2 linked regions of the Homo sapiens genome follow. The protein of the gene in region 1 interacts with the protein of each later gene in a pairwise test. Each region holds a gene or a part of one and is shown on either strand. Other genes may lie near its edges.

Region 1 (7,879 bases):
TTGAACCCGGGAGGCGTGGAAGTTGCAGTGAGCCGAGATCGTGCCACTACACTCCAGCCTGGACGACAGAGTGAGACTCTGTCTCAAAAGAAAAAAAAAATCAGTCAATGTATTGAGGTAGTGAGTCATACCCAGCATTTCTTTTCAGTCAGACCTTTGCTGAATACCCAGCATTTTTTTAATGAGAAAAATAGAATAGAAAATATCATAGTGTACTGCATGTAATGAGGATAAAATTTTGTTTTATTAAACTTTTGACACAGTATGTATGTACTGGGATGTAATCAAAACATTTTCTTGCCATGAGTGGTAGTCAAAGATGTTTTTGAAAGTTTCTGTTAAACTCTCAGAAACACAGTGTTCGTTGTAGCATTGTTGTTTTTAACAGCAAATATTTGAAACCATTTTTATGTCCAACAAAGGAGACTGAATGAATAAATTGTGGTACATTTAGGTTCAATGAAATACTACTCATCAGCAGTGGAAATAAATGAACTAAAAGTATTCATATGGGTAAATATTAAAAACACAGCCTGGCACAGTGACTCACGCCTGTAATCCTAAGACTTTGGGAGGCTGAGGCAGGCAGATCACCTGAGGTCAGGAGTTTGAGACCAGCCTGGCCAACATGGTGAAACCCCGTTTCTACTAAAAATACAAAAAATTAGCCGGGCATGGTGGCACGTGCCTGTAATCCCAGCTACTCGAGAGGCTGAGGCAGGAGAATCGCTTGAACCTGGAAGGCAGAGGTTGCAGTGAGCCGAGGTCACACCATTGCACTCCAGCTTGGGCAACAAGAGCAAAACTCTGTCTCAAAAAAAAAAAAAAAAAAAAAAAAAAAAAAAAAAAAAATATATATATATATATATATATATATATATATATATATATATATCACAATGCTGAGCAAAAAAAGGAAAAAAGAAGACAAGCTGCAGGAAAAAGAAATATAAAATAACTATTTATATAAAATTTAAAAAGAAAAATGGTACATGTAATCTTTTAGTTCTTTGAAATATCTGAAGCATATGGCAAGCTTAAGATTTGACAAAACTCAGTGGTAGGTACACAGATGTTCATTATATTATTTTCTATACTTTTCTGTGTGATTCAAATATTTATGTAAATACAAAGTCTCAAATATTATCAACTTAAGAGTCATAATCCCTATTCCATCTTTATACCTTTAAGATATTTTATCCTAATTTAAAACTTAAAGTAGATAGTAGCAGGCTTTATTGTTATTGTTTTAAAATAACAAATATTGGCCTGGCATGGTGGCTCACACCTGTAATCCCAGCACTTTGGGAGGCCGAGGCAGGTGTATCAACTGAAGTCAGGAGTTCGAGACCAGCTTGACCGACATGGTGAAACCCTGTCTCTACTAAATGCAAAAAATTAGCCAGGCATGGTGGCGCGGGCCTGTAGTCCCAGCTACTTGGGAGGCTGAGGCAGAAGAATCGCTTGAACTCAGGAGGCAGAGGTTGCAGTGAGCCAAGATGGCACCACTGCACTCCAGCCTGGGCAACAAGAGCAAAACTGTCTCAACAAACAAACAAACAAAACAAGCAAACAAAAAAAAGTATTAACAAAATGTTGACCTAAACTTTTTAAAATCATAGATTTGTAGCCACATTTCTTACCACATATTTCATTATTATATGAATGTGAAGGTACCACAGGTCTCATTATTCCCCAAAAACAAAGATAGTACCACAAACTCTCCTATATCTAGCACAGTTGAGGAATCTGGTGTTCTGGTCAGTCAAATTGCTTTTGTTTATTGAGAGTTCCCATAAATAGCAAACATGGATTACCAATTTTCAAAAGAATTAAGACACAATAAAATGTACTTAAGTCTAAAACTACACAGGATATAATTTATTTTTCACGGATGATTATGGAAAGGAACTCCAAGATCTTGCAGTAATTTTTTAAACTTATTTTTATTGCAATAGATTTATCTTCCAGATTAAACGTTTTATTTTGCATGCCATAAAAATCCTGAAAAAAAAACAAGTTATGAATTGTGAATTCTGTCTCCCTACACTAGTTCATAAAAAGGTTCCCAATGTGTTAAAAATAGACATTGTTTCTGGTACATAAATGAGAAAACCTGGTGCTATGGACACTGCAGAAAGACAAAACTCAGAAACAAAATATTTAGATTTTTTTTTTTTTTTTTGAGACGGAGTCTCACTCTGTCGCCCAGGCTGGAGCGCAGTGGCGCAGTCTCTGCTCACTGCAAACTCTGCCTCCCAGGTTCAAGCGATTCTCTTGCCTCAGCCTCCTGAGTAGCTGGGATTACCACGCCCAACTAATTTTTGTATGTTTAGTAGAGACGCGGTTTCACCATGTTGGTCAGGCTGGTCTCGAGCCCCTGACCTCGTGATCCGCCCGCCTCGGCCTCCCAAAGTGCTGAGATTACAGGCGTGAGCCACCGCGCCCAGCAATATTTAGATCTTAAAGCAGCAGTTTGACACTATTTTGTACTACCACGTAGAGCTACGTACCTTTAAAGTCCATGGAAAAAAAATCATCATTGTCCATTTTTAAATCTCTGGCTCAAGCCTGTGAAATAATAACATATTTTAATACTCTGTTTTATCCTCTAGTTTCTCAACAAATTTCTTTCCAGTGAAATGTTTCCCGTTACTTGTTATCCAAAGGGAGAAAAAAAGGCTGAGTAAAGTTAAAAGCCCATGAAAGGGCTTTTGTGAGGGGCAGGGCCAGGCTGCCAAGTTACATAAAAGGGACCTTTTCTTACCATAAGTCTGCCTGGCAACGGGGGAAATGGAGCTGAGTGGTACCCTGTTATTGGTCTGGCTGGGTCTCGCTGCTTCTTCCTAATTGGCTCAAAATCCGCTTCCGCTACCAACCGCACATTCAAAGCATCCAATCACTCACGGTCCTTTTTCCCGCTCTGTGAGAACGCTAGCACCTTCAGTATCCTGCCCCCAACGGTCATGAACAGTCCTGCTTCAACGTAATTTAGGTCCTTCAGCATCTAAACAACAATAACTACTATCTCCGGTTTTCAGTGGCCCACCACAACTCCCCATACTCCTCCATCCTCATCAAAAAACATTACATTGCCCCCAACGGTCATCAACAGTCCCGCTTCAACGTAATTTAGGTCCTTTAGCATCTAAACTACAGTAACTACTATCTCCGGTTTTCAGTGGCCCACCACCGCTCCCCATACTCCTCAATCCTCGTCCAAAAACATTACATTTGCCCATCTTCGTTCGCCTTGAGAGCGACGAGCAGTTCTGTAGTACAAAGTCACTGCCTTAGGGCCGCTCTAAAAAGTTTTGGCCTAATGGCTATAATATATTCTTGCTAGTTATAAACTACCCAACTAACTTGTGCTTGAAGCCTATTCTACCCCTTCCTGCCCACTAAACCACTCACCTCAGCCGCAGCCACCAATGCCGCCCTGCTCTCTCCACAACCTCCGTCCACAGCGCACGAGGACGTTCAGAAAACTCCGCCCCCTAGCGACGCTAGCGGTGTCACGCTAGGCCACTAAAGCCACTCCCACTTGGCCTTTACGCTGTGTCACGGAGCCTAAGCCTTGCGACCCAGTCTAGACCTTAGATCCTGGGGATGCAGTTCAGAGAGTCAGTCACTTGGTGAGTTCAGGGTGAGAATAACTGAGAGTAAGCAAATATGATGTAATTCTGAAAGCATAAGACAATGAATTGAGGGAAAAGTGCAGATGGCCAGGATTACCAAAAGGAGAGCAGGACTTCACACACACAAAAAAAAGAACAGAAAAAGAAATAAAGCAAGTAGACATTGTTGATCACTGGTTATGCAAGAGTGGCAAAGGTCAGAAATAGCAGAAATATTAGAAGCTGAGGAGACTAGTCGAGGCCAGCCTGATCAACAAGCCAGACTGCACCTGAACCAAAAAAAAAAAAAAAAAATCCAGGTGTGGTGGCACACGCCTGTAGTTCCAGCTACTTGGGAGGCTGAGGTGGAAGGATCATTTGAGCCTGAGAGTTTAGGTCCAATAAGCCATGATCCCACCACTGCACTCCAGCCTGGGAGACAGCGAGATCATGTCTCTTAAAAATAAAAAATAAGTCGGGGGCAGTGGCTCACGCCTGTAATCCCAACACTTTGGGAGGCCAAGGCAGGCGGATCACCTGAGATCGGGTGCTCCAGACCAGCCTGACAAACATGGAGAAACCCCGTCTCTACTAAAAACACAAAATTAGCTGGGCGTGGTGGTGCATGCCTATAATGCCAGCTACTTGGGAGGTTGAGGCAGGAGGGAGAATCGCTTGAACCCGGGAGGCAGAGGTTGTGGTGAGCCGAGACATTGCACTCCAGCCTGGGCAACAAGAGCAAAACTCCGTCTCAAAAAATAAATAAATAAATAGGCCGAGCACGGTGGCTCACGCCTGTAATCCCAACACTTTCGGAGGCCGAGGCGGGTAGATCACCTGAGGTCGGGAGTTGGAGACCGGCCTGACCGACATGGCAAAACCCCGTCTCTACTAAAAAAAAAAATACAAAATTGGCTGGATGTGCTGGCGCATGCCTGTAACCAGCTACTCGGGAGGCTGAGGCAGGAGAATCGCTTGAACCCGGGAGGCAGAGGTTGCGGTGAGCCGAGATCGCGCCATTGCACTCCAGCCTGGGCAACAAGAGCGAAACTCCGTCTCAAAAAATAAATAAATAAACAGGCCCAGCGCGGTGGCTCACGCCTGTAATCCCAGCACTTTGGGAGGCTGACGCAGGCGGATCACCTGAGGTCGGGAGTTGGAGACCGGCCTGCCCAACATGAAGAAACTCCGTCTCTACTAAAAAATTACAAAATTAGCCAGGCGTGGTGACACATGTCTGTAACCAGCTACTCGGGAGGCTGAGGCAGGAGAATCTCTTGAACCTGGGAGGCGGAGGTTGCGGTGAGCCAAGATGGCACCATTGCACTTCAGCCTGGGCAACAAGAGCGAAACTCCGTCTCAAAAAAAATGAAAATAAAATAAATAAAAATAAAAAATAAAAATAAAAAAAGCCTTTTAGTTCCAAGACGTTTCTGTTGCCCTGCCTTTGTCCAATCATTAGGAAACTAGGAGACTCCCCTGCAGTCTCACAGCAAGCTCGCATGTCCCACCCATCTCCAAACCAAATGGCTTGAGGGGTGGAATATGTAAGTAAAAATTTGATTCCAGCTAAATCTAAGCATGATGCTAATCTCCACTCAGAGATAACAGTGTGAAAACATGATGCCTCCAGATTTGTAGACAAACACAGAATCAAAACATTAATAAGCCTCCCACTTCTTCCTATATACCCCTCTTTTAAGCCTTGTGCACCTCAGGCCAGATATGGAGCTGGCTAACAGGATAAAGAAGAGAGATTGTGGCTCCAGTTTCTGGGAACATTAACAGAGTTCCTTCCTGATCCTGAAAGTCTCAGAATCAGTCATTAGATCTCGTGGACAAGATGAGGTTACTAAAAGTAATTTATTTTCCCTCTTCAAAATTGTATCTAGATTGCATAGTACAATGAAGAAAAATGGGAAAACAGAAAGTACTGCTATTAATTCCTCTTCTTTTGCATCCTGCAGTTTGGTATGTCTTTATTTCATAACCCTCGATTGCCATATTAGGGAAAGAATTCTGGTGAAAAGGAGCAGTGGAGTATGCCACAGTTGACTGACTCTCCATGCACCATATACTGTGTGGCCTTGAGCCAGCTTTAAGAATCTTAGCATCTAAATTGGGCATGGTGATTCACACCTGTAATCCCAACACTTTGGGAAGCTGAGGCAGAAGGAATCCTTGAGCCCAGGAGTTCAAGACCAGCCTGGGCAACATAGTGAGACCTTGTCTCCATACAAAAAAAGATAATAATAATAATTAAAATTTAAAAAGAGGCTTAGTGCAGTGGCTCACACCTGTAATCCCAGCACTTTGGGAGGCCAGGGTGGGAGGATCACTTCAGCCCAGGAGTTTGAGACCAGCCTGGGCAAAACAATGAGACCACATCTCTAATTTTATTTATTTATTTATTTTTTGAAATGGAGTCTCGCTCTGTCACCCAGGCTGGAGTGCAATGGTGCGATCTCAGCTCACTGCAACCTCTGCCTCCTGGGTTCAAGAGATTATCCTGCCTCAGCCTCCTAAGTAGCTGGGATTACAGGCACCCGCCACAAAGCCCAGACAATTATGGTATTTTTAGTAGAGATGGGGTTTCACCATGTTAGTCAGGCTGGTTTCGAACTCCTGACCTCAGGTGATCCATCCGCCTCAGCCTCCCAAAGTGCTGGGATTACAGGTGTGAGCCACCGTGCCCAGCCTCTATTTAAAAAAATACGTATATATTAAAACAATCTTAGCACCTCAATTTCCTCATATGTACAATGGGAATAAAAGTAATTCTAGGCTTCTGGTTCAATAGAATAATGCACATAAAGCATCTAGAACAATGGGTGGCTGGCATATAGTAGTAGTCACTTAACAAATGTTAGTTCCCATTATCATTTCCCATTTCCTGGTTGACAAACTTCCTACTTCCATTATCCCACCTAAACCCCTGGTTCCACCATAGCTTCTTTGTTCATGGATGAACAGATGAACAAGTAAGGTGATAATTAGAACTCAGCTCTCAAGACTACAAGCAGCCCTTTCACATGCATCTTAGAGTTCTTAATGATTAATAACGTCTGCGGTAGAATGGATATTATACTATTCAGCATTATATAAGGCATATAGGAATCACATGATTCTATTGATGAATACCAGTTGTAAATATGACTCCAAAGTTAGGGCTACTGAGCTGACGCCAGTGCACTGAAAGGGCCAGTGAATAAAGGAAAATGTACGGAAAGGGTGAAAACCCTGATAATACATGGATATCTTCAAATTTTTTTTTGTTTGTTTTTATCCAGATGGCCTTCCTAGATGTTACAAGTAAATGAAAATTAAAAGAAACAGAAGAAAAAAGTAAAAGAGAGAGAAAAGGAGAGCAGATAAAAGAAGCAGGTACATATTGAGGTGGATAAGCAAGAGTGAGCAGTAAAATGCCATTAAGTAGCACTCAACATGCTGTGGATTATCTTCCTTTACCCTCCTAACATAAGCTATAAGTTTTCTGTCCTACCCTTTAACAAAATGTTACAGAAATGGTGAAATACATGGTACATAAGATGGTTGAACAGCTTGGACTCTAATGAGAGCCTATTAAAACTCTCATCAATAGAGTGGATTAAAAGACAGTTAGCAACCAAGAACACAAATTAGTTAATAAAGTAGCATTACGCCCTGTTAAAAGAAGAGAAAGACTTCCAGAATAAACATGCAATTACAGTCAGGAAAATTCTAAAAACAAAATCATTAATGGAGGGAGGAAGAGGAGCTTGTTCTTCCAGATATTAAAACTATTGCAAATAAAATTGTGTGGTAATAGTGCAGACAGATAAATGAACAGAATAGAGTCCAGAAACAGACCCAAATATACATAGAAATTATTGAAATCAGTGGGGCAAAGAATTATTCAAGAAAAAGTGTTGAAATGACTTTAGAGCCATTTGTTAAAAAAAAAAACTAGATCCTTACCTCTCATTTCATATACCAAAATAAATTCTACATTAATCAAAAATTAAATCCAATCATAAAATTTCTATTAAAAATAGGTGTGAATATCTTATAGCTTTATTAATATACTAAGACGTAGTAGTTTTTTTTTTTTAATTTTACCTAGTTGGCAAGATCTAAATATGATCTGGAAACCCAAATCAAAAAGGGAAAACAGTAAGTTTTACTGCATAAAAAATAACTCTTCTGAGTGGCACTATAAGCAAGGTTGAAAGACAAACCACAGACTAAAAAAAGATTTTTTCAACATATGTAACAGATAAAGA
Region 2 (7,231 bases), on another chromosome or scaffold:
CATAGCTTTCACCAAACTAGGCTCATAAGCAGCCATCAGGAATGGTGTGACCCTTGAGGAAAAGGGCTGTAATACGGTACAATTTTTGGATTCTGTTTAGTTTCATGAAATGGAGGATCACAGACAGAAATCCAATGGCAATGCCTGAAGGCAATGGAGGTTATTTTCTGAATTATTTGAATAATTGAGGTAAAAGTGGAGTTTCTGCCTGGATTATTCAGATAATTGTCTTAATTCTAAACTTCACTTAGCTAGCTGGTAGAGACCTTTGTATAGGATGTATTTTTGGAATGCTAAATGCTAAAAAAAAAGAACTCCTAAAGTAAGCAGAGCTGTGGTGTAATGAGGGTGTATTGGGGGTGATACAGAGATACGGAGGGAGAGAGAGAGAGAAAGGAGGAAAAGAGAAGAAGAGAGAGAATGGTAAATAGCTAATCGTCAGAATAAGATTAAACTTTACTTTCTACTTGATAGTAACCAATGTCCACATTTTCATCACAGAATGAACTTTCTATAAAAAGGGAAATACATATGTAGATTTCAAATATAAACCATAGTATTTTAAAAAGTTACGAATTCCTTTTTAAGCTTTAAAGAGGTAAATTTTTACTTTGTAAGGTTTAGAAACTTCATGCCTTCAAATCCAGCAATTTATATAGTGAAGCAAATTGACTTAAAAATTATACCATACTTTTTGTTTTACTTCATATTGTTGGTCTTTGCCGTTTAATTCTTTTTTCTTTTTTGAGTTTCTGAATACCCCAGAGAAGGTAATCTATTTATTATGAATTCTAGGGCTAGAATATCAGCACAAATATGGAAGTATTTTTAGAAGCTATTGTCACCATAGAAATGTTAGCCACCATTTTTGTCTAGTTTCTTTTTCTTTTAAATTTTATTATTATCCCTAAAACTTAATTCTTAAAGACAAAATAAATTAAAAAAAAGAAGAATGATGACATCCATTCTCTTCTTCATTGGTAACAGAACCCTGGGCAGTAAGCCCAGCCCCCAAATTATTTGCCAACCTCCCCCACAGATGAGTGTGTCATGTGACTAAGTTCTTGCCCATAAGCGGAAGTGTTGTGTGAGACTTCTGGATAGGTCCCTTTTTTTCTGGACTCCTTCTGACCTACAATGCCGACAAGGTGCCTCGATCTCCAGCAGCCATCTTGGGTCATAGGGCAACCTTAAGAATGGAAGCCTCACACTAGGATGGCGAAAGATTAAGGTAGCAGGAACCTGACTTCACGATGACTGTGAAGCTACTATATATCCTCTGGGATGCTCCTTCTGCATTTATTTTACTTAAGAGAGTAAAAATGTATATCTTGCTTAAGACACTATTATTTCTAGTTATTGTTATTAGCAGATGAACACAATTCCTAAGTGATACATATATTAAGGTATTAATTGAAAATATTTTGTGATTTCTAGGATTAGATTTCTAGATACGTGTAATAGCTTTTCCCCTATCCCGCCAGGTACACACACATAAACATGCATTCTAATTTGTAAGAAAGAAAACTAAGTGATTATGTGAAGTTGTACCAGTAATATATTTTGTGCAATTGCAAAGGATAATGCTTTTGCAATGTGAATCATGGGAAAATAAGAATTTGAGCATCACTTAAGAATTTTTCAATGTACCTACATGCACTAAAAAACAAACAAACAAAAAACAAAAAACCAAGGCCGGGCGCTCTGGCTCACGCCTGTAATCCCAGCAATTTGGGAGGCCAAGGCAGGCAGATCACAGGGTCAGGAGATGGAGACCATCCTGGCTAACACGGTGAAACCTGTTTCTACTAAAAATACAAAAAATTAGCCGGGCCTGCTGGCGGGCGCCTGTAGTCCCAGCTACTCAGGAGGCTGAGGCAGGAGAACGGTATGAACGCGGGAGGTGGAGCTTGCAGTGAGCAGAGATGGCGCCACTGCACTCCAGCCTGGGTGACAGAGCGAGACTCCATCTCAAAAAAGACAAAACAAAACAAAACAAACCAAAACAGTAGAGAGGAAGACAAGCAAATACAGAAATGGAATTCAGCAACAGAATATTAATAGTTTTTTCTTTATCTTTTGCAATTAATAGCAAGAAAGGAAGGAAAGATCAATCTATTGAGCAGTCAGATGGAATGGTAAAGATTAATCATTCTCTTCCCTTCAGAAGTTGCCTTAATTCTTTGTCTTTTAAGATCCAGCTCTTTTATAAGGCCCTCACCAATCTCTCAGTAGGAATTAACCTCTGCTCTTTATCAGGACTAGAACCAAGCTACAGCGGGTGAGGCATTTGTCTTGGGTACAAAAGTTAAAACTCAGTAATCAAGATAAATATTTTAATGGAATATTTTAATTGGCAAACTAAGGCATGTGGGCCAGTCTCCTGTTTTTGTAAATAATTTTTTAATTATACTTTGCTTTTATTTGTATTATAGCACTTAAATAGTACTTTTTACATTAGCCCTCTCCCAACAGGGCTGTACTCATTTTTGTATTCCTCATGTACCTACTACTCTGTTTGAAGCATAAAGGCCTCTTAAAAAAATCTTGCATTGAGTTGATTAAAGGATTTTTGCAAGAATATATTGTACTGGTGATGGTGGGGTTCAATTTTCATACTGAATTCAACAATAGCAAAAGAATAACAGAATGATGACTATTTTGAAAGTACTTATAATTTAGTGCTGTGGGAAAAATCACTTGGCTTGTCTTTGACTAAAACCCTGCTGAGCTTAGGGAGATAGAGAATTGTAATATTACATTATGTTCATATAGCACTTTTTCCTACATAAAGTGCTTTCTTTTAATCCTCACCTCAATCCTGTAAGGTCGGTATTGCTATCCCTATTTATTGTAGAGAGATTGAGAAATGAGGTGACTTGCCCAGGGAGTTATGGGCAAAAAGAGGCAGAGCTGGGGTTCTAACCCAGATTTTGTCTGTCACAATTGAATGCCCTTTCTGCGATTATAAATCTTATGTCTCAGAGTTGAATGAGAAACAATTTATACAGCAACTACAATAGCATTCTTATCATTAAAATGTTCTGATTATGTGTGTGTGTGTTTGTGTATGTGTGTGTGTGTATGTGTGTGTGTGATGAAGTAGCTGAACTTGGTATTTTTCGGTAGAGGGTAGGAAACTACACATTGAAAAGCCGAAGATGAAATTATGTTATTTGAGTATTACTTTCTAACTATAACTTTACCACTGATGTGTGTATGATATTCTGCAAAGTGACTAAACTGTACGTGTTTGCTTCTTCATGGAAAAAAAATTTGGGAAGGCATTTAAACTTTTCAGCTGAAAAAGGTTATGTCAATGTGAAAGATTATAGTACTCGAGAATTAGGAGTTGATTAAATTTAACGGTTTCCTTTTCATACTTAGGGGGAAAAATCTACGACTGTATTTTAAAACTCCATATGGCAATTAAATTTGAGAGCGTATAACTAACTACTTCACTAGAATTTCCATCAGTATACAATAAACACACAGTCAAAACCTCAAATGTCCATTATTAGCCCATCTAGTAGACGATATTTTATAATTATGGATTCCCCATATTGATTGATGTCCAGAGAAAAACTGCAGTCTTCTCTTACTAAGCTGATAGTTGAGTTCCTGGGAAATCCTCACCCCCTAAGAACAAATAATTCTCAAAGAAATTCAAAGTCATTCCTTTTGGTGAATTGCAATCAGTCATCAATAACTATTTATGGAATGTCCGAAGGGTGCCTAGGCATTGAAATGGCAAGAGACTTATATTTGCTTAATTCAAAGGATTTCTAAAGGCAGTCTGAGGACTTGCAAGAAGTCTTTAAAGATGCAAAGTGGTGTGTTCTTTAACTGCCCCTACCTGGAATGAATTGAACAGTCTGGGTGTTAGGGCTTTGATGTCTAATCCCGCTTTGCAAGCGAAGACTCCACTGGTGCCAAGCGACAGGCGGGCTGGTGGGCAGACATGGCACCACCACCGGGGGCTTTCAGGACTGGTCCAGCCCTCCCAGGCAGGTGTAGGGCCGACTGCAGCAACAGCGGCCCTGACCCCAGCTCCCATGGCTCCCCTCCCCCCGCACTCCCACCCCCCGCACCCGGCACACACCATCTCCCAGTCACCCAGTCTCGACCGGTTCTCGCGAGATCCGGGTTACTGAGCGCTCGGGGCCTTTTCAAATCGGGATCCGTTACCGCTTCCCCGGCAGCCGCCATTGTCGCGCTCGGAGCCCCTCAGCTCAGGCGGCCGAGGCGGAGGCAGCGGCGGCGGGATGGCGGACGCCAACAAGGCCGAGGTGCCCGGGGCCACTGGTGGCGACAGCCCGCACCTGCAGCCCGCAGAGCCGCCGGGCGAGCCGCGGCGAGAGCCGCACCCCGCGGAGGCGGAGAAGCAGCAGCCGCAGCACAGCAGCAGCTCCAATGGCGTTAAAATGTATTGTCTTTTCCTCCGGGAACCGGGGCGAGGTGGGGGGCGGGGAGTCTACCGGGCGGCTAGAGGCCGGGCTGTGCCCCGATGGGGGACAACCACCCCCAGACCCCGGCCCGCCCCCGGGCCATCGGCTTCCTGAGGAGCAGGTGCAGCTGGGCCGCTCCCAGGCCCTTCCCCGCCCGCCCCAGGCCTGGCCGCCTGTGGTCTGGGAGCCGGGGCTGGGGGCCCGGGGACCAGCGCTCTTCCCTGATTTCTAGCCCGAGACAGCGAACACCCCTCTTCCCTGACTTTGGTTAAAGAATCTTTGAGCAAAGCTCAGCGACCGCCACGGTTTGCAGGAAAATGGTCCCCCTTTAAGGACCAGTAGTTAGTGTTCATCACTAGGGAGTATCTAGGGATGACATCATCGGACATTTCCTCTTAACCACCGAGAACATATTTAAAAGGAATATTCCTGGCTTCTTTCTGAGCTTCACAAGTTTAGTGTTTTGTTGTTTTCTAAAGTGTATGTTCATTTTTAAACTGATTTATACCGAGAGGAAGTTTAATAATGTGCTGTTAGACTCTATGTTTTGTGTTACTCTTGAATTGGCTAGACGTACTTTAAAAAGGGAAATGTGCGATGTGCGTGGCTTCCCTTCCCACTGGGTAATGTGCGTCAGCTGTGGAGAGTATTTTTTTTTTTAACTCAGTGTATGATTATCTTAAGTTTGGTATAATAGATGGTTAAGATTTTTTTTTTCCCAAATGAAGGAAGACTTTTAAGGTCGCAGCTGTCACCAGTGCCTATAAAGAATTTAGTTGACCCCAATCCATAATAATTTCTGGTTCTAGGGAAATGTTATGCTCTCCTTTGTTCCTGTCCTGTGGGAGGATATGAAGTTAAGCGCTTACTTTCATATGCCTACCTCCTTAAACCTGAAGTTGAAAGTATGTTAATAATTAAGTGAAAACATCCTTTTCCTTCTCTGTTATGCCTCAGAGCAGAAAGCAATAGATATATGCTCACAGTAAAATAGACAAGGGAAAGGTCTTTCTGACCTTTGTATAAGCATGTTTGAAATTGTATGGTAAGAACTGGACCAGTCTGTGTAAAAGTTGGTGGCAAAAAAGATGGGGTAGCTCTCCCCAGCTCTTTGACACTCTTGCTCTCAAATGAGTTTGAACAGGATCGGCAGCATCTTCTAGGAGAATAGAGGTGCAGGTATAAGAGATTGGAACTTAGTGGAGTTTATTCCTGGATGAAGAGTGGTGCACCTCAGTAATTGAGGAACCAGAAAGGGAATGAAGTGCTTTCTACCATGCTTGCCAAAATGTGGGCTTTCTGGAATTTGGCATTAAAAATAGAAATGAAAACCGGTGGAATGATAAACTTAAAAATATGTGCTATTCATATCTAAACACGAGTATACATGCCACCTTTTCTCCTGAACAAAAAGTGCAGCCTTGAATTACAGAGAGAAGCCCTCCTATACTTGGGTATGATTAGTTTTGATATAGGGGAAGTTTGGTATCTAAACCTCCATCAGATTTTCTATTCCCTTCTAAAGTCTCTTCATGATTTAGCAAGACAGGAAAAGAGAAAGGAGAAAGGTGGAGAAAGAATCCTTTTCTAATTTAGGAAGAGAAAAATATAAGGTGAAGAAATGAAGAAATATTACTAGTAAATACAGATTATTTCCATATTGCTTATAATTCGCCTCTCCCTTTCTCTTTTTCCCAGAAGTTGAATCGAGTCCAATTTACTCTCAGGGATTTCTCTTACTGTCTATTCCATAAGAAGATTTGTGATGGTCCAGCATGAGTCATTCAAACTGAATAACTAGCGACCTAGTCCTTTTTTTTTTTTTTTTTTTTTTTACTTCGTGAACTAGTAGGAGTGGATAACAACCCCAATACATAAACCTTGAGTTGATTACCATATACTTTTAATAATAAAAATAATTCATTGTTGATTATAAAAATTACCATAATATTGCCCCAAATTATGTATTGGTTGGAATTGAACAGAGTACTGCTTGTCATCAGGATTGAAATAATATTTGCTGAGGTTAATCCATAGTTATTGAGGGTGGGAGACCACTATGTCTTATTCTTCTTTGTATTCTTAAGGCCTAGTAAATATTTGTGGAAGAAATGCAGAAGTGAACTTTCATGCTTATGAAACTCATATACAGGGAATTTAGTTTGCATATTCACACCTTTAGAAAAGATCCGTTTTCCAACTGTAGTCTTCTTCTTTAACGCCAAATGGTATACTAGCTCTCCTTTTCTTAAAAATGAATAGGAGGGAAAAGAGCAGTATTATTATAACTTTATTATTCATGTGTAATTAAGTATAACTTTGGAGTAGGTAGAGATTGAGAGTTATATTAGGGTACTATAAAATATTAAGCATTGGAGCAAGGTAATGTGTTCTTTAGCTGAGTGATTTTTATTAGGAATAAAGACTAGAACTGTTTCCCCCAGCTTTATTGAGGTAAATTGACAAAAATTGTATATTTTGAAGTGTACAGTGTGATGGTTTGGTATACAAATAAATTGTGAAATGATTACCACAATCACGCTAATTAACGTATCTGTTACCTCGCATAGCTACCATATTTTTTGGTGTTGAAAATACTTAAGATCTATTCTTTAAGCAAATTTCAAGTATACAGTAAATATGTTAAGTATAGTCACTATACTGTACCTTAGATCTACAGAACTTACTCATCTTATAACTGAAAGTTTGTGCCCTTAGAACATTTCCCCATCCCCTGCTGCCCTCCACCTCTGGTAAACACCCTTCTACTCTCTGCTTCTGAG

What was found. Proteins that work in one complex are often made in the same cells at the same time.
Region 2: the proteins of TEX11 (region 1) and MYEF2 interact in binary tests that used the Homo sapiens proteins (3 or more experiments, as listed by UniProt).

The regions. Positions count from the first base shown.
Region 1 is NC_000023.11:70,905,240-70,913,118, forward strand, and holds the start of TEX11 (testis-expressed protein 11), read right to left. Parts: upstream 3,473-7,879; 5' UTR 3,415-3,472; intron 2,572-3,414; 5' UTR 2,551-2,571; coding exon 2,514-2,550; intron 1-2,513. UniProt on the Homo sapiens protein: Regulator of crossing-over during meiosis. Involved in initiation and/or maintenance of chromosome synapsis and formation of crossovers.
Region 2 is NC_000015.10:48,175,272-48,182,502, reverse strand, and holds the start of MYEF2 (myelin expression factor 2), read left to right. Parts: upstream 1-4,207; 5' UTR 4,208-4,265; coding exon 4,266-4,426; intron 4,427-7,231. UniProt on the Homo sapiens protein: Transcriptional repressor of the myelin basic protein gene (MBP). Binds to the proximal MB1 element 5'-TTGTCC-3' of the MBP promoter. Its binding to MB1 and function are inhibited by PURA.